Linked DNA regions of Homo sapiens: all the other regions are linked to region 1. Evidence: fine-mapped expression QTL. A gene starts in region 1. Each other region holds a variant in brackets. All regions are shown on one strand. Distances are between the middles of the regions.

Region 1 (5,098 bases):
GAGGGCACTGGACCATGTGGGGGCCATAGAGGAGGAGGAGGCAGGAGCCACCCCCGGGTCCAACAGCAGAACCCTGGGGTTGGGAGCCAGAGTGGGGAAGGGAGAGGAAGGAGCAAGAACACCCCCCACCACCCCCAGCACGGCACAGAGAGCTGAGCAAACACTTGTCACCAAGGGCTTTTCTCCTCTGTCTTTTTTTGTTTTTCGAGACAGAGTCTTGCTGTGATGCCCAAGCTGTTGTGCAGTGGTGCGATCTTGGCTCACCACAACCTATGCCTCCTAGGCTCAGGTGGTTTTCGTGCCTCAGCCACCCAAGTAGTTGGGATTAAAGGTGTGCACCACCATGCCCGGCTAATTTTTGTATTTTTAGTAGAGATGGGGTTTCTGCATGTTGGCCAGGCTGGTCTCAAACTCCTGGCCTCAAGTGATCCTCCCGACTTGGCCTCCCAAAGTGCTGGGATTGCAGGCTTGAGCCACCACACCTGGCCTATTTTTTTTTTTTTTTGAGTTGGGGTCTGGAGTGCAGTGGCACGATCTTGCCTCACTGCAGCCCCCACCTACCTGGGCTCAGGTGATCCTCCCACCTTAGCCACCCAAGTAGGTGGGACCACAGGCACATGCCACCATGCCCAGCTAATTTTTTATTTATAGAGACAAGGTCTTGCCATGTTGCCCAGGCTGGTCTCAAACTCCTGGGCTCAAGCAATCTGCCTGCCTGGACCTCCCCAAGTCCTAGAATTGCAGGCATGGGCTGCTGGGCCTGGCCTTTTCTCCTGTCTTGGGAGGCTGGGACCAGTCTTCCTGGAAGTACCCAAGGCCCTCCTGCAGACCATGGTGACATTTCCAGGAAAGACCCAGAAGCTCGGAGCTGAAGCCAGGGCAGCCAGGACTGTCGGGGAGCCCTGGACACTGGCTGTCTGAGAGCGCTTGGTCAGCTGGCACCTGCCATGTGGTGGACGTGGGGCTGCAGAGACCCCACGGCTGGGCTTCTCTCGCCTGAGAGCAGGCCCAGCCACAGGCTACCTCCCACAGGGCCCCCTGAGACCACACGGCCTGCAGCAGCTCCCCCAGGCCCCCTCCCCCTGCCCGGGCAGCACTCAGCGCTGCATCTCCATCTGCTCACTCAAGTCGAAGGGCCTGGGGGTTGGTGCCTCCATCTTGTTCTGCTGGGGGCCTCCAGCATCTAGAGCAGGAAGGTGTGCGGAAGAAAACCACTCATGCAGGGAGAGGGGGACCTCCCAGTCCAGGCCCTGCTGCTGACCCTTTCCCTGAACACCAACCTATGGCCTCCAGGCTGGGGCCCCTTGAAGGACGGTGGGCCACTCGGGTGGCCTGGGTTCAGGGCCGGGCTCCACAGCTGAGTTCTGGAGGGAGGGCACAGACGACTGGGGGCTGGGAGGGGCCAGGTGAGGGGTAGGAACAGCCAGGGAGCCCTGCAGGAGGGGTGCCCAGCATAGCCCCAAAGCTGCTGGGGCTGGGCAGGGCAGAAACTGCCAAGGAGTCCCAGAGCCCTGAGTGGCGTCTGGCGAGGGCCCCTGACCCTGATCTCTGTAGACCCCACTCCTTCCGTGAGGGTGGCAGCCACTCCAGGGCCCAGCAGGGCCAAGGGAGAGGCAAGTGGCCTGGGCCCATGGGGCACTGGGCACAGCCAAGTGTGGCACCAGGGTGCCTGGGCGGCTGCTGCCACCACGTGGCCGACTTTGAGGTCGCAGAGCCCGGGGTCCAGGCAGGAAAGCCCCTCAGCTGCCCCCAGGGCCCTGGCCCAGGCCCCTGAGGCCCAAGTGAGCCACCTGGACTTTGTCACTTCGCCTCTGGTTTCTTGGTTAAGGAGCTTGAGTTCCCCGCCTTTTGTAAAGAAACGGTGGTGGCGACGGCGGATTTCAAGCTTTATTTACTCCTGGAATGGTCCTGGGAGGAGAGGCGGCTCCGCAGAGCCGGAAACGGGGGCGGGAGCTGTTGGGTGCAGCCGGGAGGAGGCAGTGCCGGGGCGGGCCGGGCAGCCATCGGGGTAACGGAGGGGGCTCCGGCCCGGGGGCTGCCCGGACGGGAAAGGGGACACGGGCGGGGCTCCCCCACCTGGGCCCCCCACCCTCACGCCAGGCCCCCCTGTGCGGTGCAGGACGAAGGAACCCTGGCCTCAGTTTCCCTACAGGCTGGGATCAGGGCCCCTGGGGTTCCGACTGTCTCGGAGGGGGGCGGCCTCGCTGCAGAGGTCTGGAGGCGGGGCCGGGGCGGGGGCGGGGCCTGGAGGGGCGGGGGCGGGGCTTGCGCTCACTTCCGCCCGGCGCGGGCTTGGATGGAGGCGGCGCGGAGGCCGCGGCTGGGGTTGAGCCGCCGGAGGCCGCGCCCGGCGGGCGGGTGAGGCCGGGAGCCGGGCGGGGGCGCGGCCGGTTTTCCCGCTCCCACGTGCTTCCCGGCGCCCCCGCGGGCCTCCCGCTCTATTCTCCCCCTGGGGAGGGCTCCCTGCCCCCGGGCCCGGCCCCCACGCCCGTCGCCCCACCCCGCGCCGCCATTCAGCGCCCGCCTTGAGCCCCCACCCCACGCCGAGCTTCCCCCGCGCCGCCCCAGGCCCTCCCGCGCCTCTCCCATCATCGCGTCTCCCCTGAGCACCCCCCATCTAACCCTCTACCTTCCCCAGGCCCTCCGCAATCTCCCCAACCATCGCCTCATCCCGCTGAGGACCCCATATTTCCACCCACCCACCCCGCTCCCCCACCCCCAGTACCCCTCATCTCCGCACTGTCTGCCCCAGCAGCCCTTCCCCCAACCCTGCCGGCCACCTCCCGCACCATCGAATTTCCCTCTAGTACCCCCCATCTCCCCGCTCTCTCTGCCCCAGGCCCTCCCGGGTCTCCCCACCATAGCGTTTCCGCTACTGAGTACCCCCTGTCTGCCCTCTCTGTCTGCCCCAGGCCTTCTGGCGGCCGCCCCTGGTTTCTCCTGGGGGGTGATGAGCGGGAGCGGCTCTGGGCCGAGCTACTGCGCACGGTGAGCCCGGAGCTGATCCTGGATCACGAGGTGCCTTCACTGCCCGCCTTCCCAGGACAGGTGTGCCCACTGGGCCCATCTTAGCGATGAAGGGGTTTCCAGGGCGGGAGCCATCGCTGGGCAAGGCCCAACAACTCTGTGTTGCAGGAGCCCAGGTGCGGCCCGGAGCCCACTGAAGTCTTCACTGTCGGACCCAAGACCTTTTCCTGGACACCCTTTCCGCCGGACCTGTGGGGCCCGGGCCGTTCCTACCGGCTGCTTCACGGGGCAGGAGGGCACCTGGAATCCCCCGCCAGGTCCCTGCCCCAGCGCCCGGCACCTGATCCCTGCAGGGCCCCCAGGGTGGAGCAGCAGCCGTCTGTGGAGGGTGCCGCGGCCCTGCGCAGCTGCCCCATGTGCCAGAAGGAGTTCGCCCCCAGGTGAGTAGGCCACCCCTGCGCCCGGCCCGGTTATCCATCCGTGTTTGGAAACCACAGCCGTTCAGAAGGTCAAGAGGTGGCCGAGCTCAGCGCTGGCTTTTAAAGCCCTGTTTCACACTGGAAAGGTGGCCCAGTGCTGTGGCCTGGCATGTCCAGGTGGCTCTCTGTCACGGGTCTGGGGTCCACCTGCTTGCCGTGCTCTGTGGGCAGGGCAGGCTGGGGGCCCACAGAACAGCACAGAAGGAAGGCTGGGAGCACTGGCCCCGGGTCCACCTGGCCATCCTGGAATCTGGTGGCACCAGCGTCCCCAGGCCCAGAGCACAGGAACACCTTCCCGAGAGTGCGTCATGGGTTTTAAAAATGAAGATCGTCTTTTTTGTCTGGAGATGCTTTTTCTTATTTTTGAAACCCAACGTATATTTTTATGTATTTTTTAAGTAAAGGGGAATGGAACCCAGTTTTGCTAACAAGATAACCCAAACTGCCCAGTGCCTGGCCTTGTGTCTGGCGACCTCTGGGCCCTTGGCCTCCGGAGCAGGTCCTGGGGCTGGGGTGGTGTGAATGATGCTGGTTCGTAACTTTTGGTTGAGTTAATGGGCGGCAGGTTTCAGAGCTTATGGAGACCAGGTCCTTCAGTCATGCCTGATGCCCCTGGTCTTCCAGAAGCAAAAACAGCTCGGGAATGCGAAGGCACCGGAGTCCAAAGTTGGCAGCCAACAACAACAACAACAAAAGAAAAGGCCGGGCACGGTGGCTCACGCCTGTAATCCCAGCCCTTTGAGAGGCTGAGGCAGGTGGGTTGCTGGAGCCCAGGAGTTTGAGACCAGCCTGGGCAACATGGCAAGATCCCATCTTTACATGCCTGGGCGTGGTGGCGCGTGCCTGTGGTCCTAGCTACTCTGGAGGCTGAAGTGGGAGGATTCCCTTGAGCCAGGAATTGGAGGCTGTAGTGAAGTATGATTGCACCACTGCACTCCAGCCTGGGTGACAGAGTAAGACCCTGAATCACGGACAGAGGGTACTGTTGGGAGCCCTGGGGAGAAATCCATGCTCTTGGCTGAAGCTCTGAGATCCTTGTTGCTGTCAGGGTGCTGCCCCCCGCCCCCCGGGGAGGGGCTTTTGTCTTTGCATCGCCTGCTTTTCCAGATAGTCTAAAAAAAGACTTCTGAAGACAAGGACGTTCACGAGGAAAAACTTGCCATTTTGAGCTTTTTAAGCAGTTGCTGAAAGCTTGGCAGACTGCCTCAATTTTTCCTAAGTAGGCGTCAATGAAGTCAGGTCCAGGCCTTGGTGTGTCTGGAATGCTTCAAGCACATTCGAACACTTGATCGTAAGGGAGAGCCGGTACTTTGGAACCGGAACTCACCCGAGGCTGTGGCCACCGCATGGGCAGGCTAGCTGGGGGACAAGCCCCATATCTTTGGGAACAAGGGTTTGCACAGCCACCCTGGGATGCCCTGGGACTCCTGACCGCACAGGACCCCAGCAGGGAGGCCGCCTGGATTGGAGGGTCTGGTCTAACAGCCGGACTTGGTCTTGAACCGTCGCCCTGTCCCGCACAGGCGCCTGCTGAGCCTGGAGCCCTGGCAGAGGCGGGTCTGGGGAGTGGAGCTGCCAGGAGGCCTCCCATTTCTCACAGCCTTGGTGTTCTCCGGGTCACCCAGAGGACCGTCAAATGCTGGATTTGACAA
Region 2 (5,098 bases), 180 kb before region 1:
TGCACATATTGTGTGATGTGCGTGCTCCTGTATGTGTGTGCATATGTGTGTATGCCTTGCACAGGTGTGCACAGGTCTGAATGTGTATACGTGTGGGGGGGCACGCGTGCACGTGTGTCAGAGTGTCCTTCCTTTTTAGGAGGAACAGTCTTCCATTCTAGTGAGGGGCTACTTTCTGCTTCCCCACTCATCCGCTGCTGGCCATCGCAGTTGTTTGTACCTTGGGCTGTTATGAATAGTGCTGCTGTGGACATGTGTATACAAGTTTTTGTGTGAATGTGTTTTCATTTCTCATGGGTATGCACCTATGAATGGAATTGCTGGATCACATGGTAGATTTATGTTTGAACTTTTTTTTTTTTTTTTTGAGATGGAGTTTCACTCTTGCTGTCCAGGCTGGAGTGCAGTGGTGCAATGTCGGCTCTCCGCAACCTCCGCCTCCCGCGTTCAAGTGATTCTGCCTTGGCCTCCTGAGTAGCTGGGATTACAGGCATGTGCCATCATGCCCCACTAATTTTGTATTTTGAGTAGAGATGGGGTTTCGCCATGTTGGTCAGGCTGGTCTCGAACTCCCGACCTCAGGTGATCAGCCCGCCCCAGCCTCCCAAAGTGCTGGGATTACAGGCGTGAGCCACCGCGCCTGGCCTAAACTTTTAAAGAAACTGCTAAACTGTTTTTCCAAAATTGCTGCAGCATTTTACAGTCCCACCAGTAATGCATGAAGGTTCAGATTTCTCTGCGTCTTCCCAACACTTGGAATTGTGTCTTTTTGTAATAGCTGCCCTGTGGGTGTGAAGTGATAGCTCCTCGTGATTTTGATTCGCATTTCCCTAACGAGTGATGACGATGAGTGGCTCTCGCTGTGTTGATTGGCTGTTTGTTTATCTTCTTTGGAGAAATGTCTATTCAAATATTGTACCCATTTTTTAAAAATTAGACTATCAGTCAGGCACAGTGGCTCACACCTAAAATCCCAGCACTTCGGGAGGCTGAGGTGCGAGGATCACTAGAGCCCAGGAGATCTTTCTTCTTGGTGTTGTTGTTGTTGTGGTTGTTGTTGTTGTTTGGAGACAGAGTCTCGCTGTGTCACCCGGGCTGGAGTGCGGTGGCACGATCTCGGCTCACTGCAAGCTCCGCCTCCCAGGTTCAAGCGATTCTTCTGCCTCAGCCTCCCGAGTAGCTGGGACTACAGGCGCCCACCACCACGCCCAGCTAATTTCTTGTATTTTTTTTTAGTAGAGACGGGGTTTCACCGTGTTGGCCAGGATGGTCTCGATCTCCTGACCTCGTGATCCACCCGCCTTGGCCTCCCAAAGTGCTGGGATTACAGACGTGAGCCACCGTGCCCGGCCAAGTCCAGGAGATCAAGACCAGCCTGGGCAATATAGTGAGACCCCATCCCTAAAAAAAAAAACCAAAATTGTTTTTAATTAGCTGGTCATGGTAGTGCATGCGTGTGGTCCCAGCTACTCGGAAGGCTGAAATTGGGAGAGTCCCTTGAGCCCAGCAGGTTGAGGCTACAGTGAGCCCCGTGACTGCACCACTACACTCTAGCCTGGGTGACAGAGGGAGACCCTGTCTCATTTAAAAAAAAAAAAAAAGAAGAAAAAAAAATGAAAAAAAGGTTGTCTTCTTATTTTTAGCTATAGAGTTCTTTACCTATTGCGGATATAAGTCCTTTATCAGATATGTCTTTGCAAATGCTTTCCGTCCACCTACGGCTCATCTTTTCATTTGCCTAATGCTATCTTTGGAACAGCAAAAGTTTTTCATTTTGCTGAAGTCCAGTTTGTCCATTTTTTCTTTTATGGAGCATAGTTTTGGTACCGTATTTAAGAATTCTTTGCCTAACCCAAGTTTCACAAAGATTTTCTCGTATCCCTCCAGAACTCTTATAGTTCTAGCTCTTACATTTAGGCCTGGGATCCAGTGTGAGTTATTTTTTATGGAAAAGATAAAGTTCTAAATTCATCTTTTCTTCATGGGGATGTTCAATCATCCCAGCATCATTTGTTGAGAACACCGTCCTTTTGCCGTTGAGTTGCCCTGGCACCTTGGTTGAAAATCAGTCAGCCCTAAGAGTCAGGGTTGATGCCTGGACCCCCCGTCTGCTCCACTGATCTGTCTATCCTGATTTATCCTCAGTCTATGCCAGGGCCACGCTATCTGGATTCTTGTTGCTTTTAGCACGTTTTCCAATTGGAGAGTCCTCCAGTTTTGTTTTTCCTTTTCAAAATGATCTTGACTCTGCTGGGACCTTTACATTTCTGTATAAAATTTTAAGATCAGTTTGCCAACTTCTGCAACAACAACAAAAGAAGGCTGCTGGAATGTTGATGGAGGTGCGTTGAACCCCTCTGGAGAGAATGTCCAGATGAAATCTTACCAACACTGAGGCCTCCATCTCATGAACACAGAAGCATCTCTCCATTTAGGTAGAGTTCTTACTTTATCACCAGCGTCTTGTTCCTTTCAGCACACATCTTGCACTTCTTTGTGAAAGCTATTAATACATAATAATGTTATTTATTAGATATTGAATTATAATTATTTTATTAATTATTTCTAAATGCTGATAAATTTGTTTATTCTTTTTATGCCATCATGAGTAGAATTTTCTTAACTTCATTTCAGAGGTTGCCGTAGACTACAATTGATTTTTACATATTGACCTCATTTCCTTTGACTTGCTTTACTCATTTATTAGTTCTACTAGTTTCTTAGAGGATTCCTTAAGATTTTCTCTATATACGATCATATTGTTTATAAATAAATACAGTTTTACTTCTTCCTTTTCAGTCTGAACATGAAAAGCTGCAAGGTTTTTACATTACCTCCAGCAATGAAAGAGGGTTCCAATGGCTTTACACCCTCCTCAGTACTTGCTATTGTCTGTCTTCTTTTTTTTTTTTTTTTTTTTCTGAGACTGAGTTTTGCTCTGTCATCCAGGCTAGAGTGCAGTGGCTCAATCTCGGCTCACTGCAAGCTCCACCTCCTGGGTTCACACCATTCTCCTGCCTCAGCCTCCTGAGTAGCTGAGACTACAGGCGCCTGCCACCATGCCCGGCTAATTTTTTTGTATTTTTTT[A/TA]GTACAGACAGGGTTTCACCCTGCTAGCCAGGATGATCTCAATCTCCTGACTTCTTGATCCACCACCCTCGGCCTCCCAAAGTGCTGGGATTACAGGCATCAGCCACTGCCCCCCGCCTTTTTTTTTTTTTGAGACTGGGTCTTGCTTTATTGTCCAGGCTGGAGTGCAGTGGTGCAATCTCAGCTCACTGCAACCTCTGCTTCCCGGGCTCAAGCGATTCTCCTGCCTCAGCCTCCCAAGTAGCTGGCACTACAGGCACCCACCACCACGCCCAGCTAATTTTTGTATTTTTAGTAGAGACAGGGTTTCACCATGTTGGCCAGAATGGTCTCCATCTTCTGACCTTGTGATCCACCCGCCTCAGCCTCCCAAAGTGCTGGGATTACAAGCATGAGCCACCGTGCTGGCCTGTCTGTCTTTTGGATGTAGCCATCTTTGTGGGTGTGAAGTGGTGCCTTCTTGTGGTTTGGATTTACATTTCCCTAAAGGCTAATGATGTTGAGCATCTTTTTGTGTGCTATGGGCCATTTGTAGATCTTAGTTGGAGAAATGGAGATAAGAGGCAGAACTTGACTCCAGAAGTGGGGCTCAGACACAAGACCAAATTGAGGACTAGATAAAACAGGGTCAGGGAGGAAGCAGCCTTCCATAAGACACGCCCACCAACGCATCATGCCAGTTTACCATCACCATGGCAACACCTGGGAGTTACCACCCCTTTCCATGGCAATGGCCTGATGACCCAAAAGTTACTGCCGCTTCCCTAGAAATGTCCACATAAACCACCCCTTGATCTGCACGCAGTTAAAAGTGGGTATAAATATGACTGCGACACTGCCCTGAGCTGCTGCTTTCTGCCTGGGGGGCAGCCCCGCTCTGCAGGAGCTGTAGCCCTGCCGCTTCCATACCTCCCATTCACCCTTAAATCCTTCCCTGGCCAAAGCCAAGAACCCTCACAGGCTAAGCCCTGCTGTAGAGCTCACCTGCTCTGCATCAAGATGTCGTAAGAGTTCTTGACATATTCTAGACACAAGCCCCTTATCAGATATCTAATTTGCAAATACATTTTTCCATTTTGTGGGCAGTCAGACAGTTTCTTGCTGGTGTCCTTTGAAACACAAAAGTTTTAAGTTTCGATGAAACCCAATTCTCTCTTTTTCTTTTTGTTGCTTTTGATGTCATATCTATGAAGACTTTGCTTAGTCTGGAGTCATGGAGATTTACTCCTGTGTTTTCTTTTAAGAATTTTATATTTTTAGGCCAGGCACGGTGGCTCACGCCTGTAATCCCAGCACTTTGAGAGGCCAAGGCAGGTGGATCACCTGAGGTCAGGAGTTCAAGACCAGCCTGGCCAACGTGGCAAAACCCTGTCACCACTAAAAAATACGAAAACTAGCTGGGCATAGTGGCGGGTGCCTGTAGTCCCAGCTACTTGAGAGGCTGAGGCAGGGAGAATTGCTTGAACCCAGGAGGCAGAGGTTGCAGTGAGCCGAGATCACGCCACTGCACCCCAGAGCAAGACTCCATCTCAAAAAAAAATGACATATTTTTAGCTCTTACATTTAGGACTGTGAACCGTTCGGTATTAATCTTTTTGTTTGGTGTAAGGAAGGGGTCCAACTGCTGTATATTCCTTTGAATGTGGGTATCTATTTGTCTTAAGATCATTTGTTAAAAAGAGTATTCTTTCCCCAATTATCTTTTTGTTTGTTTTTGTAATTTTTTTTTTTGTAGAGACAGAATCTCACTATGTTGCCCAGGCTGGTCTCAAACTCCCAGGCTCAAGCGATCCTCCCACCTCAGTCTCCCAAAATACTGGGATCACAGGCATAAGCCACCAAGCCTGGCCTTTTTTCTTTTTCTTTTTTTTTTTTTTTTTTGATAGAGCAATGAATTATCTTGTCCTTCAGTTTGCTAAAGTTTTTTTGGGAATTTCTGCATCCCTGTTCGTGAAGGATATTGGCATGAAATTTTCTTTTCTTGTAATGTCTTTGTCTAGTTTTGCTATC
Region 3 (5,098 bases), 51 kb before region 1:
TAGGAGCTCCCCCCAAGAACCTGGTGGCCTCAGGGCCTGGAAAGGCAGCTGGCCAGGCCCCTAGGGCTCTGGGGAAGGAATGTGGGCTGCTCCAGAAAGTCCCCAAAAGCACCAGGGTCCTTCCGCGCACTCACCACAGCCTCTCCGTGAGGCACCGGTGCACAAGAGCAGACACGACGCGACCAAGGCCCCCCGCCACCGCGCCCCCCCGTCACCACCAGCAGAGCCAAACAAGTCAACATGGGGCTGAAACTGGTCCCAGCCCACATGCCCTGGTAAAAGGGGCGGGCACGCTGCGTCCAAGGGCTGTCCCAGCTGCGTTGGCAATGGCGCATCCAGGGGAAGGAGGCCAAGGTGTGCAGCCAGCAGTAAGGCCCCTTCCCGAGAGCCAGACTGGACTCGGGCTGGGGCAGCTGTGTGCTCCCCAAGGGCACCTGTGGGGCCCAGGAAAGAGGAAGAGCAAGTCCTGATGCCAGGAGCAGGCCCTGGGCTCCTAGGTTCAGGAAAAAGTCAAGGCCAAGCCAGCAGATTGTCCCAGAAACCCCAAGTGGCCAGGGCAAGGGGGTACATACTTCTTGCCTGGTGGCTGCACCCCAACCCCAGGGAGGCATTTCTAGGGGCTGCCAGAGAATGGCCCCTTGCCCCGGGTCCACCACACCACCCACATTTGGCAATGGGTTCCAAAGGGAGGAACGTGACAGGCTTCTGTGAGGTGGCAAGTATCATCTTCAGCGAAGCCATCATTTTGCTAAAAGAACTTTCTCCAGGATCTGGCAGGATATAACTTCAGAGCCAGAAGAAAGGAGGGAGAAGCACGCTGCAAACAGGCCCTTGGTCATTTGGGAGTCTGGGGTCCTCTCGCTGCCCTTCCCTGGCTCCAGGCTGAGGGCGCCCCTGACCCAGGCCCTTCCCTCTCCAGCTGCACACACCCATGCACACCTGTGCACACACATGCCCACGGCTCCCTTTTTTGTTTTTTGTTTTTTTAAGATGGAGTCTTGCTCTGTTGCCCAGGCTGAAGTGCAGTGGCACAATCTCGGCTCACTGCAAACTCCGACTCCCAGGTTCAAGTGATTCTCCTGCCTCAGCCTCCCAAGTAGCTGGGACCAGGTGCATGCCACCACACCTGGCTAACTTTTGTATTTTTAGTAGAGACGAGATTTCACCATATTGGCCAGGCTGGTCTTGAACTCCTGACCTTGTGATCCGCTGGCCTCAGCCTCCCAAAGTGCTGGGATTACAGGCGTGAGCCACCGTGCCCGGCCTGTGCCCATGGCTCTTGCACAGGCCTCCCAGAAAGCAGAAGCAGCCTGGCCACAGTGGGCGAGGTGGAGGTTCCTGAGGCCCCCCCCATCAGGTTCCTCTTTGCTGCTGCTACAGGCCAGGCACACGGTAGGTGCCCCTTCACAGAAGAGCAGCCCCATCAGGCCCGACTGCCGCACTCTCTGAGACTCCCTCCCCCAATGGCACTCACAGCCTTCGGCCCCAGCAGGTCACTGTCATCTCTTCATCACACAGAAGCCCTCTCCATGAACACCACCAGTCCCGGCAGAGCCCCCGCCCAGCTCGCACAAAGGAGGGGTGGGGAGTCTGACTTGCAGACAGCGCTGCACACCGAGGCTCACAGAGCGTCTCCTCTTACAAACATGAATCTGGCGCCGAGACGCTCCAGCTTCCTGACCACCACAGCAGAGGACAGAGGCAGCCTCCAGCAACAGAGGCAGGATCCGACCACGGTGCACGCAGTAGACAAACAGGAGACAGAAATTTACAAGTAGAACAGGATCACTAACCAGAGTAGATAAAGACGTACAACTGAGCAAAGGCCCCCACACACAACTCGACTCAAAGAGGGACTCAGACATTCCTCAAAGAGGATATAGGAGTGGCCAATAAGCACACGAAAAAATGCCCAACATACTAATCATCAGGGAAATGAGAACCAAAACCACAATGAGATGCCACCTCACACCCATTAGGATGGCCGCTGTCAAAAAACAGAACAAGTGCTGGAGAGGATGCAAAGACAGTGCTGCTCGAACGCTGTTGCTGGGAGTGGAAAATGCTGCAGCCACTATGAAAAACAGTCGGTTCTTTAAAAAGAAAAACGGGCTGAATGCGGTGGCTCACGCCTGTAATCCCAGCACTTTGGGAGGCCGAGGCGGGATGACGGCTTGAGGCCAGGAGTCAGAGACCAGCCTGGCCAACGTGGCGAAACCCGTCTCTACTAAAAAAACAAAAATTAGCCAGGTGTGGTGGCACACACCTATAGCCCCAGCTACTCAGGAGGCTGAGGCAGGAGA[A/C]TCACTTGAACCTGGGAGGCGGAGGTTGCAGTGAGCCGAGACTGTGCCACCGCACTCTGGCCTGGGCAACAGAGTGAGACCCTGCCTCAAAAAAAAAAAAAAAAAAAAAAAAAAGAAGGAAAAATAGGGCCAGGTGCAGTGGCTGACGCTTGTAATCCCAGCACTTTAGGAGGCCAAGGCGGGCAGGTCACATAAGGTCAAGAATTCAAGATTAGCCTGGCCAACATGGTGAAACCCCATCTCCACTAAAAATACAAAAATCAGCTGGGCATGGTGGCACATGCCTTTAGTCCCAGCTACTTGGGAGGCTGAGACAGGAGAATCGCTTGAGCCCAGGAGGAGGTGGAGGCTGCAGTGAGCCGAGATCGTGCCACTGCACTCCAGCCTGGGCAACAGAGCAAGATGCTGTCTCAAAAATAAATGAATAAAAATAGAATGATCAATGATCCAGCAATCCCACTTCTGGGTCTACACCCAGAACTGAAGGCAGGGTCTCCAGAGGTCACTGTGCACCCGTGCTCACAGCAGCATCATTCACGACAGCTAAACTGTGGAAGTCACCCGTGTGTCCACTGACAGAAATGGGTAAACAAAATACATCCATACAGCAGCCTGCGGTTCAGTCTTGAGAAGGAAGGAGACTGTGACACAGGCTACGCATGGCTGCGCCTTGAGGACATGGTGCTGAGTGAAATAAGCTGTCACAAAAGGACAGATCCTGTGCGATTCCACTCACAGGAGGCCCCTAGAGTCACCAAAGTCACAGAAACAGAAAGCGGCGGGTGGGTGTTGGGGGCTGGGGGAGGCAGAATGGGGAGTGAGTGTCTCATGGGGACAAAGGCTGAGCCTGGGAAGGTGGGTGAACAGCAGCGTGAATTTGCTTTACAGTTTTAGCTGTTCTGAGGTTAGGTGCGTATATATTATTGTTAGATCTTCCAGTTGATTCGACCCTTTTATTGTTCTGTAACTACTTTTCTGTTTCTAGTAATAGTTTCTGAAGAAAAGTATATTTTGTTTGATACAAATGGAGCCACTCCTGTTTTCTTTTGGTCACCAATGGCATGGGATGTCTTTTTCCATTCCTTCACTGTCAGCCTATGTGTTCAACACTGCTGAATGCTACATGTAATGGTCAACATTATGTTTATTTTGCCACAATAAGAAAATGTAATATGCACAAGTTACAGAAAAAAATACTGAAATAACAAAACAATCAACCCACCAAAAAGCAAAGAAATACAAACTAAATGATGAGATTTTTCACCTTTCAAATTAACAAAGACACTCTAAATGACAGAATCTTGTTTTTGCTTTTCGTTTTTTGAGACAGAGTCTCGCTCTGTCACCCAGGCTGTAGTACAATGGCGCCATCTCAGCTCACTGCAACCTTCACCTCCCAGGTTCAAGCTATTCTCCAGCCTCAGCCTCCCAAGTAGCTGGGACTACAGGTGCACACCACCACGCCCAGGTAATTTTTGTATTTTTCTAGTAGAAACATGGTGTCACCATGTTGGCCAGGCTGGTCTTGAAAACCTGACCTCAAGTGATCCACCCACCTTGGCCTCCCAAAGTGCTGGGATTACAGGTGTGAGCCACCATGCCCAGCCTAAATGACAGAATCTTAAAAGTTGTCAGGAGGGGCCAGGTGCAGTGGCTCACGCCTGTAATCCCAGCACTTTGGGAGGCCGAGGCAGGCGGATCACGAGGTCAGGAGATGAGACCATCCTGGCTAACACGGTGAAACCCCATCTCTACTAAAAATACAAAAAATTATCCGGGTGTGGTGGCGGGCACCTGTAGACCCAGCTACTCAGGAGACTGAGGCAGGAGAATGGGATGAACCCGGGAGGCGGAGCTTGCAATGAGCCGAGATCATGCCATTGCACTCCAGCCTGGGTGACAGAGCGAGACTCTGTGTCAAAAAAAGAAAGAAAGAAAGAAAGAAAAGTTTGGGTAAAACAATCCCACCTTTTAGGGGAATCTCAGAGTCCACTAAGGAAATGATCAGAAACGTGAACAAAGATCTAAGCACACACAGAATCATCCCAGCTGAGTGAACATACAAAAGCAATCTATAGAGATGTGTATTGCGTGTGCGTGTATCAGTAAATAACAGGGTGCCTGGCAGACAGTGTGCCTCCCCTCTGACCTGCCACGTCTACAAGAAACTCACCACACCCCTAGCATCCCATGCAGCAGAGAACTCGTTTACAGCCAACAAGACCGATGACAGGGAGTGTTGGGACGCTTTGGAAGACAGCCTGGCGTGACCGACATGCCCTCTGACCAAGCTGTTTCACTCCCAGGCCCACATGGTGCACCACAGCCTACCCAACAGCAAGCACTCTGCCCACTCGTCCCAAGGCACAAGAACAGGACGAGCAAAGCTGCACGGTGACACTGACACAGTGAGTCAGCCAGAGTGACAGGCACTCGGAGAGCACACGCGCAGACCAGCAGCCTGACAGGAGCTCCTGCAACAGAGCACAACGGCCAGCCTGCACCCACAGCTGCAGAAAGGGCAGGCGGGGCATAAGGATGGCGGCCCCCTGCCGAGGAGCACGAGAGGGCAGGGCGGGGATGAAGCAGGTGGTACGCGGAGCACACTGACATCTCGTGCAGCCAGCACATGGTCACGAAGCCCGTGTGATGTGTTTGTGCTGACACGCGCCCTGAAGCATCTCTTGCGATACCAAAACACGGCCCATGCCCCAGACACTAAGTAAGTTCCAGACTCTCAATACCAACGGATACTCCAAAATACCACAGGGCTGGCCCAAAAAGGCACCAGGCAC
Region 4 (5,098 bases), 90 kb after region 1:
GAGGTATCTGCACACGTTTTCCCACCGCAGCTCCATCTGTAGTTGAAAAAGATGGGACGGAGCCCCCACATGCATCAGTCAGCCCAGCCCAACGGGCACGGGAGTGTGTGCGGCCGTGGAAGGAGAGAGGACGCATCCACTGAGGGGTCTCAGGACACGTGACGTGCGGGAAAAAAGCAGGTCTGGAGCAGGACCTGCCTCAGGAGAGGGAGGACGCAATCCCGCCTCAGTGTTGCTTGGCCAGGGAGAGGGGCGGCCTCCGCACAGGAGCCCACACAGCCACGGAAGGCAGCCGGCTGTTGGTGCAGGCAGCACTCACTGTTACACGAATCACGAGACAGAGAACTGCACACCAGTGCTCCGCACCCCGGTCACAGACGCAGAACCCCGAGGAAACACGGGGGAGGCAGAGCAGGCCCTGCGAGGCACAGGCCTTCTTTTAACTTTGATCTCAAAAGCATGAACTCTCTTAAACAACTGAGACAGCCGAGCCGGAGAAACCGCAATCCTGGCTGCGTTTGGTGAAGTCAAGTGACTCCTGTGCTAACGTTTTCTTCTGCTTTGGCCTCTGGAGACACGTGCAGAGGTCCTCGCCCACCGGAGGGGCTTGCTGAGAGTCACCTGGCCTGGTGACACGTGTGGAGGGGCTTGCTGAAGAGTCGCCTGGCCTGGTGACACGTGTGGAGGTCCTCGCCCACCAGAGGGGCCTGCTGAAGAGTCACCTGGCCTGGTGACACGTGTGGAGGTCCTCGCCCACCAGAGGGGCTTGCTGAGAGTTACCTGGCCTGGTGACACGCATGGAGGTCCTCGCCCACCGGAGGGGCTTGCTGAGAGTTACCTGGCCTGGTGACACACGTGGAGGTCCTCGCCCACCAGAGGGGCTTGCTGAGAGTTACCTGGCCTGGTGACACGTGTGGAGGTCCTCGCCCACTGGAGGGGCTTGCTGAGAGTTACCTGGCCTGGTGACACGTGTGGAGGTCCTCGCCCACCAGAGGGGCTTGCTGAGAGTTACCTGGCCTGGTGACACGTGTGGAGGTCCTCGCCCACTGGAGGGGCTTGCTGAGAGTCGCCTGGCCTGGCGACACGTGTGGAGGTCCTCGCCCACTAGAGGGGCTTGCTGAGAGTCACAGGTATCGGCTGGAGTGCAGGTTGCCAGGAGCCAGGCAGGGTGTGCACGAGGCCTCACTATGTAATTCTCTCTACTTCTGTCAGTTTGGCATTTTTCCTAATAAAAACTTTTCAAGTACCAAGCCGCTCAGTTCTGCCTTTTGATGTTTGGATGCCTTGGCTGGAGCTCCACCTCCCTTCCCTGGCTCTGGGTCCGGCCCTGTCCTTCCCTGGCTCTAGGGGGCTTTGTGTCCACAAAATGTCAGGCTGCTCCATCAGCCACAGGGGGCTGGGGGGACACCCCATCGAAGTCCTGGGCGAGGCCCTCATCTCCCAACAATCCTGAGGACCTGTCTGGCATGGCCAGGAGACGTGGAAGGGCCACATGCAAATGAGGTGGCACCTCCCACACAGGGCACAAACGCAGGAGCCCCCTCATCCTCAGGGGGTGCCACTCGTGGTCCCAGCATGTGTGTGTGGGGGGGTGGGGCCTCATCCAGGCCTGGTGGGCAGCCCCTCCCACCTGAGACCTGAGAATAATTCTCATCCGACGATGACAACTATGTGTCTGAAAGTGACCTTCCCGGCATCACCTGGTCATCACCCACAGCAGCTCCCAGGGGCACGCAGCCACCCTGCTCCTCCTGACAGCTCTGTGACTACTTCACCCCAAATTCATTTTGCTTAGACATTTATTTGAAAAAAGACCTGGCCAGGAGTGGCAGCTCACGCCTGTAATCCCAGCACTTTGGGAGGCTGAGGTGGGTGGACCACTTGAGGTCAGGAGTTTGAGACCGGCCTGGCCAACATGGTGAAACCCCGTCTCTACTAAAAATACAAAAATTAGCTGCGCATGGTGGCAGGTGCCTGTAATCCCAGCTACTCGGGAGGCCGAGGCAAGAGAATCGCTTGAACCCGGGAGGCGAAGGTTGCAGTGAGCTGAGATCACGCCACTGCACTCCAGCCTGGGCAAAAGAGTGAGACTGTCTCAAAAAATAAATAAATAAGGCCTAACGTGACCCTTGGCCAAATGCCTAGTGCACTTACTTCTACTCCCGGATGGGCCCCGGGCACCCTCATGACCAAGCCCCAACCTCAGGGCCTTTCAAGAGTTGCGTCTACAAACACCCTGCAGGCCCTCACCCCCAGGCAGGGACAAACCAGCTGCTGGGGTCACCTGCTGGGCGGCAGTGCCGGT[A/G]CACAGCGCAAGAGCTGTCTCCTGACGAGCAGGTTTGGAAGGAACAGCATGGCCGTGACGCAGTGACTTATGCCTTCAAAGCCACAGGGATGGGAAATTGCTTCATGGCACGACAGACGTGTGCTGTGATAAGGGGTTACTCGTTCTCAACAATGTTGGCTATGCAAGCGTCCTTGAGAAGTCTGAACTCACAGGGGAGCTGTCACAGATCAAGGTCAACAAGCCAGGGTGGCTGTCGGGGTGAGGCCGGCCGCGCCCTCCTGAATAAAAGGCCTGGGTGCTGTGTAATGAGGTGTGAAGAATAAAGGCTACTCACCCTGAAAACTGCTCTTCTCTCTCTGAAGACAGCACACACTCACCAGTCCCCGCTCACACCGCAACACCCGGCGAGGAAGCGCCCTCCAACTCTCCCTTTCGTGCTCGGCCCCGGGGGGCAGCAGTGAGCCCCGCAGGCCAGCCCGCTGCGTCCTGCCTGTCTGGCACCGAGCGATGTTCTGACCACCCCTCGCCAGGGCAGGCCCAGCCTCCCTCTCTCCTCCCAGTCCCCACCCACACTGGCTTCCCCTGGATGCTCCCTGCCTGGGCTCCACCCCAGGGCCTCATCGCGGCCATCCCCTGCCACCTGGGATTGTCCCCTCCCAGCCTCCCCTCTTAGGGCCCTTCCCACCATTCGCGCCACTGGATGCCTCTGGGGCTCCCCTGTCTGTCCCCTCACTCCTCTAGAACACATACCCCTCGCAGACCGATGCTGCTGTACTGGCCCCTGAACTGGACACAGAGGCCCTGAGGTTCAGGCCACCTTCTTCCCCTGCAGCTCTGGGGCAAGCACTGGCGTCTATCCAACCACCAGCCGTAACCTTCCCTCAGCCCGTGGGGCTAGGAGTCCAGGCTTCAGCCAAAGAAATCGCAACCAAGAGTTGGACCCCCTTTTTGATGTTCGACTGCTGGAGGTGTTTGAGACGACCCGCTCCCCTCCCGCCCACATCCCAGTGAGGTGATGAGGGCCCTGGGGAAAGTTCAAACCCTGCAAGCCTCAGCCCCTGCTCACCCCGCCTTGCCCCAGAGCCGCCACGGAAACCGAGACAGTCTCCTTACAGGCGCGCTCAAGACCTTTCTGGACCATCCTGGAAGACCCCCCTCCCCTGCTCTCCCCAGAAAACCTCATTATGTGGTGAGAAGCTCCCTCCCGTCTGCGTGCGGTGCTGTCATCTGTGTGGACACCTGAGCCAAATGTTGGGCAGGGGTCCATCCCATCTCTTCAGGGTGACCAGTGATTACAAGTGAACAGCTGGCGTCCAGGCCAGGAGGTGTTTAAACGGGGGCGCGTTGCCCTTCACCCCTCTCCTCCCACTGCCGCCTCAGGTGCAGCCCCCAGAGACCACAGCAGCTTGTGGAGAGGGGAGCGGCCAGCACTCACCCGCCGCCCCAGAGGCCCTTCCTTCCCATCTACTTTGCTATCCCTGTTTTCCCTTCTAGACAGTCCTCTCTCTCTTTCTCTGTTGCCCAGGCCAGAGTGCAGTGTTGCAATCATAGCCCTGCAGCCTCGACCTCCTGGGCTCAAGCGATCCTCCCTCGTAGCTAGGCCTACAGACACGCGCCACCGTGCCCAGCCTCACGCTTCTCTTCAAGGAAGCGGGGTTTGTGCTGATGAGGAAAAGTACATGACTGCATGACTGATGGAGCTTGGAGGGCTTCTTTGGGCTGGGGTGGGGGCAGCTTTCCCTGCGGAGCACCTGTGTCCCCCTCCCAGGCCTTCCCGAGGCACACGCGCCACTGGACGTGCCAGCTGCTGATGAACCATCCCCCACACTCTGTGTAACTGTGTCTTGAACTGATAAATAAATCAGTCTTGATAAATAAACCCTTACTACTGCGGCAGCTGTGTCGGCCGCTCTCCCGGGGAAGCCTTTCCCAGTCACTGGGGCTACGACTTGCTTTTTGGAGTCCTCTTAGAACAAGGCCGGGTGAGAACATCAGCTGCTGTTTGTCCACAGTGTAAGACCCACTGTGGAAACAGAGATATGAGTACAATTCTTGCCCCCCAAAAACCCCACAGTCTAGCCCGGCGTGGTGGCTCCCAGTACTTTGGGCGGGCGAAGTGGGAGAATCACTTGGGGCATTCCAGACCAGCCTGGGTAACAAATCAAGACCCCCAACTCTACTAAAAATAAAAAATTAGCCAAGCGTGGTGGTGCGCGCCTGAAGTCCCAGCTAGTTGGGAGGCTGAGGTGGGAGGCTTGCTTGAGCCCAGCTGCAGTGAGCCGTGATTGTACCACTGTACTCCAGCCTGGGCGACAGAGCAAGACCCTGTCTCTTGAGAGAGAGACAGACGGGGGGAGGGGCCAGAATATAAAAACAGTCAAGAGTCCAAAGGGTAAGGCCCCTCCAGCCCCTAGGTTTCTGGGCCCTGTGTCTCCTGGTTCTGAACCAATCCGTGACGCAGGAGAGTTGGGGGTTGGGGGAGGAGACTTGCATTTTTAGATCTCTTTCTACAAAGTTGAAATAAAGTGGAGAAAAAAATACACGAAGTTTCTAGAAATCTATCATTACTCATAACAAAGTAAAACAAACAAAAACGAGGGCCGGGCACGGTGGCTCACACCTGTAATCCTAGCACTTTGGGAGGCCAAGGCGGGCGGATCACGAGGTCAGGAGATCGAGACCATCCCGGCTAACACAGTGAAACCCCATCTCTACTAAAAATACAAAAAATTAGCGGGACGTGGTGGTGGGCGCCTGTACTCCCAGCTACTCGGGAGGCTGAGGCAGGAGAATGGTGTGAACTTGGGAGAC
Region 5 (5,098 bases), 680 kb after region 1:
TAGCCTCAAGGGACAGAGGAGGCAGTCGGTGAGGAGGAGCCGCCCGTTTGCCTGGAGAGCAGCAAGGACAAAGCAATGGGCTCCGGCCGAATCTCGGCGACCCGCTGCCAGGAAAGGGGCACGGAGGAAGCCAGGAGCGTCGGGAGGGGCCGGGCTTGCAGAGGGGCTACCAGGCAGAGGGGCAGGGCAGGGGGCACCCGGGGAAAGGGGGCAGTCAACTCTGGAGAAACCTCTCTCACCTGCCAGCAGTGAGGCCAGGAAGGAGGGAAGGGATCAGAATGAAAGAGCCCACACCTGGAACACAATCCACAGGAAACAAAAGCCTGATGGAGGGCTCCCCACGGTGCACCTGGAGACCCTGCCCCGGGCCCCGCTCCACCACAGAGAGGGCAGACCAAGGCACTGGCAACGCCGGCAGAGCGGACTGCGGGTCAGGAGCTCCGGGGCCGCCAGGACTGGAGCAACTCAGAGGCACAGGTCTGCACTATGGGGAGGCGGCCTGAGGCTGCTCAACCAGGCCTGTACCACTGCAGGGGGCCGCAGGCTGATCACTACGATTCAGCTTCTGGAAGTGGGAGAAGTTTCAATCTCTAAGTGAAGTTAGCGGGTGAAAACCCCCAGGAACTAGGACACAAAGGAACCCTCCAAATAAGCCTGCAGCAAGAAAGTCAGTCACCAACATCCGCTGTCCTCCGAGGTGCCCTGAAGTCCAGCCCTTGATTCCCATCCTAACCTGATGGTTAAAATTACCGAGGAAGGCCATGAGCAGCGGCTCACGCCTGTCATCCCAGCGCTTTGGGAGGCCGAGGTGGGCGAATCACCTGAGGCCAGAATTCAAGACCAGCCTGAACAACATGGTGAGTGCTCACACCCTGAGGGCCTTGGGTCAGGGGTTTACTCAAGCTGAGCAGCACGGCCTGGCCTGTGGCTTCACAGACCTCGCCGTGCAAATGCTAACGTCTTCCAACAAGAAGTGCAAATCTGCTAGTCTCGTTAGAATCAAGTAACTCTCAAATACGCTTCCCTTGTTACGTGGAAACTGCTAGCAACCACCCAACAAACCCATCTACCCATCTGGCCACGCCTTGGCCTGTGCCACGTGGAGGCGGCAAGCGCAGAAGGATCCCGCACGCTCGGCGGTAACTGAAGACCACGGCCAGCCCCAGACCCTGACCCCTGTAACCTATGAGCGCCACCTCCGCACCGCTTTCCGCACCTGACCCGCTCCTGACAGCTGCAGAGGTGCAAACGGGTGACGGAAAGAGTCCGATCCTCCCGGCACGCGACACGGCTCCGGCCGGGGGTGCTCCGGGGGCGCAGTCTCGCCCGGGAAGTGGCTGCCGACAGCGGCGAGGAGCGGCAAGGGCCAGGGCTCCCGCTTCCCCGGCCCGTCCCGCCCGCCCGCCCGCGCCGCCCCGCCCCGCCGCACTCACGCGAGTGCTCCAGCTCGCGCGCCGCCTTGGCGGCGCGCTCCAGGCCGGTGGGGTCGAAGTTGCTCCATTTGTCCTTGGGCGCCGGCCGGTCTCCCAACCCGCGGTCCCCGCCGCCCTCGGCCCCGGGCTGCGCGGGCGGCAAAGGCGGCGGCGGCCCCGCGCCTTCACCCTTGGGGCCCTTGTTAATGCCGAAGAGCCACGACATGCTCGCACCGCCGCCGCCGCTACCGCCGCCGGGACCCCCACCCGAGTCTGACTCGCGCGCGGCTGGGAGCAGCCTCCACGCGCCGCGAGCCGGTGGTCACCGCCACTGCGCAGGCGCCACACACACCCCTTCCTCCCGGCGATAGAAGCGCGTAAGGGACACGCGCGCAGCCCTTGGATTGGCCCCGAGGACAGTGACGCCATAGCGACGGCGCCGCGACTGCCGAACAGGCTTTGGGAGCCAGCGGGGCGGGAGCGGCGAAGCATCTGGCTACGGGAGCCACGCCGGGACAAAATTCCCGAGGGACGTAGGCGAACCCAAGGCAGCGTCAGCCCCGCGCCGCATCCGCGTGGGCTCCGTTGCTAGGGGCTCCGTTGCTAGGGGCTCCGAGGAGTTCCGGCCTTGGCGGCAGCGGGTGGCAAGTTTCCAGGGAGCCCCAAGGTTCTCGATCCGTGCGGCGGGGCGCCCTGCGGTGAGTCCAGGACGCAGAGAAGAGTCTCGCGGGAACCTCACCCGAGGCGGCACCGGCGCCCGGGCAAGCCGAGCCCTTCCGCGATGAGTCGGCGCCCTGGGGTCGCTGCGCCAAGAGCTCAGGAGAGGCGCCTCCCCTCCTCGGTGTCTCCGCAGCCCGCACGGCCCTCCCGCCCAAGACCCCGGGGCGACCCCTTCCCGCGTGGCGGGGCCAGCGAGCTCCTCTTGCGGGGCGTGGACGGGGCCGGGGTGCCCGGGCAGGCGCCGCCCCGGAGCCCACGGTCCACGCGCTCCCAGCGGCCCTGACTTTCTCCTTGATGGAACTGGTTGACTTCACGGAATATATGGAGTGACTTTTCCCACTGGATTGGAAACTGTTTTAAGCCTGAATAATGTTAGATACAATGAGTTCTAAACTTCCCTTCAAAGAATCAGTATATCAGTATGTTCAGTCTTTGTCCTGCATTTTAAAGTCTACCTTCCTCGCAGTTTCAGTAAACAACCTTTTCCACCAGTTCTAGTCAGTAGTTGACATCTGTTGCCCTGGTCACCTGCTCCGTCCTAACTAATCCCGGTCTCCTGCTTTGACCTGAGTCACCTTTAGTTACCTGTCCCATAACCATTTTTCCCGCCAAACCACTCACCCCGCCACTCTGGCCCATACTCCTGCTCCCTTTAAAATAGCCAATGGGCACTAGTTTAGACTGTGCATTCTAACCCTAGCCAATAGGGGAACCACACAGCAGTAGGGGCTACCCGCGTCAGGAATAAGAACCCCTTCCCCTCCCTTGTCCAAGCGCTCGCCATTGCTCCATCTATGAGATGTCCCCTTCTATAGAAGTAAATTATCTAGCTGAGAAAAATTTATATTCGAGTTCTACTTCTTTGGCGGCACAGAAAATTTACATATAACACAGTGAGCTGCCGAGATCTCGTCACTGCACTCCAGTCTGGGCGACTGAGTCAGACTCTGTCAAAAAAAAAAAAAAAA[G/AG]CCAGAAAATGCCGGCCAGGCGCGGTGGCTCACACCCGTAATCCCAGCACTTTGGGAGGCCGAGGTGGGCAGATCACCTGAAAACAGGAGTTTGAGACCAGCCGGGCCAACATGGTGAAACCCCTGTCAAAAATACAAAAATTAACCTGGGCATGGTGGCGTGCGCCTGTAATCCCAGCTACTCCGGAGGCTTAGGCGGGAAAACTGCTTGAACCCTGGAGGTGGAGGTTGAAGTGAGCCGAGATCAGGCCACTGCACTCCACCCTGGGCGAGCACGACTCCATCGCCAAAAAAAAAAGAAAAGAAAAAAAAAAGAAAAAGAAAACAGGGCAGGCGCGGTGGCTCACGCCTGTAACCCCGCCAGTTTGGGAGGCCGAGGCAGGAGGATTGCTTGAGCCCAGGAGTTGGAGACCAGCCTGGGCAACAAAGAGAGACCCCGTCTGTACCAAAAAAATAGGAGAGGAGGAGAAAAACCAAATGACTTCCCCAGCAATAGCCAGACGTCCCCCCACCCCCACCCCATGGCTGTAATCAAGGTTTTGGTTATTTATTTATTGAGAGGGTCTCACTCTGTCACCCAGGCTGGAGTGCAATGGTGCGATCTCAGCTCACTGCAACCTCTGCCTCCCATGCTCAGGCGATCCTCCTACCTCAGCCTCCAAGCCAAGAAGCTGGGACCACCGGCATGTGCCACCTGGCCCTTTTTTTTTTTTTTTTTTTTTTTAGAGGGAGTTTGACTCTTGTTGCCCATGCTGCAGTGCAATTCCATGGTCTCAGCTCAGTGCAACCTCCACTTCCCAGGCTCAAGTGATTCTCCTGCCTCAGCCTCCTGAGTACCTGGGATTTCAGGCACTTGCCACCACGGCCGGCTAATTTTTTTTTTTTTTTTTTTAGGAGAGATGGGGTTTCACCATGTTGGCCAGGCTGGTCTGGAACTCCTGACCTCAGGTGATCCACTCTCCTTGGCCTCACTGAGATTCCAGGCGTGAGCCACCGCGCCCAGCCCCATCATCAAGGTTTGCAGGGACTAGCTGCAAAGCGCGGGCAGGGGCGGCATCTATTTGAAGCCGCTGTGTCTGTTTCGCGTGCACTTCCCTCCACCGTGTGTCTGGCCACAGGCAGCTCTGGCGGAGGGGAGGGAGGCGAAGGGCACCCGCGTATGCACGGCCTCAGGATGGGGCACGGGCACCCGGCCCTGCCGTGGCAGGCACCTCCTGTGCAGCCCACCCCTCTGTGGTTAAATCCTCCAGAAAGCCCCAGCTTCTGCCTTTTCTGTCACCTTTGACCCCAGGGGGACGTTAGGGGGCCCCAAACCCCGCCCCAGCCAATAGACACAGCGGTGCGGCCCCCGTGGGACTTTATTACGGGGAGTATTTCCTAAATGTGCGGGGCCGCAAAGGCAGGGGTGGGAGGGGTCCGCGGCCAGGCTCCGTGAGGTGTGGTCTCCCCATGGACTCAGGATGAGGGTTGCTCGTCCTCGGGCCCAGGCCTCCCCCTCTTCAGCCAGCGCATCATCTGCTGGTGCTGCTGGACAGCATCTTGCACGCGGGTGTCCATCATGGCCTCGGTCAGGACCCCGTCCTCGGAGGCATACGCCGTGGCCTAGTGGGGAGAGAGGGAGCTGAGGGAGGCCGCCATGGGAACCCCCCACCCCAAATGCACGCCAGGGCCCCGAGGTGGGGAGGGACCAAACCAGGGGCTCCAGGATGGCCTGAGCGTGAAACACAGGCTTCCCGCACCTCGGCAGAGCCCAGCACGTGTGTGGACACCGGGGGCAGCCCCTGCAGTGCCCACAGCCCTGCCTGCGTCCTCAGCACTGCTGTTGCTCAATGACTTTCTAATAATAGAAAGCCCAAGGCGGAGCCTCACTGACGGCCGACCCAGGGCAGCTTCCGAGAGGCAGGTGGGAACTGCAGACCCTCTGCGTGTCTCAGCCGTGGCCAGGCAGTGCCCCCGGGTCATAGTGCACCTCAGACCCTCAGACCCTGACCCTCACAG

Direction of the effects. Positions count from the first base shown, and alleles are read on the strand shown. Sizes are in standard deviations (SD) of each study's normalised expression. Not every link is listed here.
For the expression in activated naive CD4 T cells of the gene that starts at base 2,274 in region 1, AG is the low allele of the variant in region 5 and G is the other (large effect, 1.4 SD a copy in Schmiedel 2018).

Evidence for each region.
Region 2: its variant is fine-mapped to the expression of FAAP20 in monocytes after LPS (Fairfax 2014, PIP 0.95).
Region 3: its variant is fine-mapped to the expression of FAAP20 in tibial artery (GTEx, PIP above 0.99).
Region 4: its variant is fine-mapped to the expression of FAAP20 in whole blood (INTERVAL, PIP above 0.99).
Region 5: its variant is fine-mapped to the expression of FAAP20 in activated naive CD4 T cells (Schmiedel 2018, PIP 0.95).

The regions. Positions count from the first base shown.
Region 1 is chr1:2,191,948-2,197,045 of GRCh38, reverse strand. FAAP20 (FA core complex associated protein 20) reads left to right here and starts at 2,274. Exons shown (of 4, transcript NM_182533.4): 1 at 2,274-2,358; 2 at 2,913-3,048; 3 at 3,136-3,407. The coding sequence starts at 2,297. It overlaps LOC112268219 (a long non-coding RNA gene), which reads right to left. Exons shown (of 1, transcript NR_168005.1): 1 at 4,588-5,098. RefSeq lists an enhancer at 640-1,306 and silencers at 1,940-2,419, 2,430-2,519.
Region 2 is chr1:2,367,178-2,372,275 of GRCh38, reverse strand. All of the region lies in intron 8 of MORN1 (MORN repeat containing 1), which reads left to right. Among named protein-coding and RNA genes, the nearest start is that of MORN1, 22 kb to the left of the region's middle. The variant A/TA (reference allele first, on the strand shown) is at 3,089.
Region 3 is chr1:2,243,108-2,248,205 of GRCh38, reverse strand. The region is part of intron 1 of SKI (SKI proto-oncogene); the gene reads right to left. Among named protein-coding and RNA genes, the nearest start is that of SKI, 17 kb to the right of the region's middle. RefSeq lists enhancers at 1-818, 4,288-4,808. The variant A/C (reference allele first, on the strand shown) is at 2,304.
Region 4 is chr1:2,102,419-2,107,516 of GRCh38, reverse strand. All of the region lies in intron 4 of PRKCZ (protein kinase C zeta), which reads right to left. Among named protein-coding and RNA genes, the nearest start is that of PRKCZ, 55 kb to the right of the region's middle. The variant A/G (reference allele first, on the strand shown) is at 2,306.
Region 5 is chr1:1,508,809-1,513,906 of GRCh38, reverse strand. ATAD3A (ATPase family AAA domain containing 3A) reads right to left here and starts at 1,745. Exons shown (of 16, transcript NM_001170535.3): 1 at 1,434-1,745. The coding sequence starts at 1,638. It also overlaps a transcript of ATAD3B not described here. RefSeq lists silencers at 1,628-1,787, 2,238-2,437 and enhancers at 1,938-1,997, 4,253-4,894, 4,895-5,098. The variant G/AG (reference allele first, on the strand shown) is at 3,101.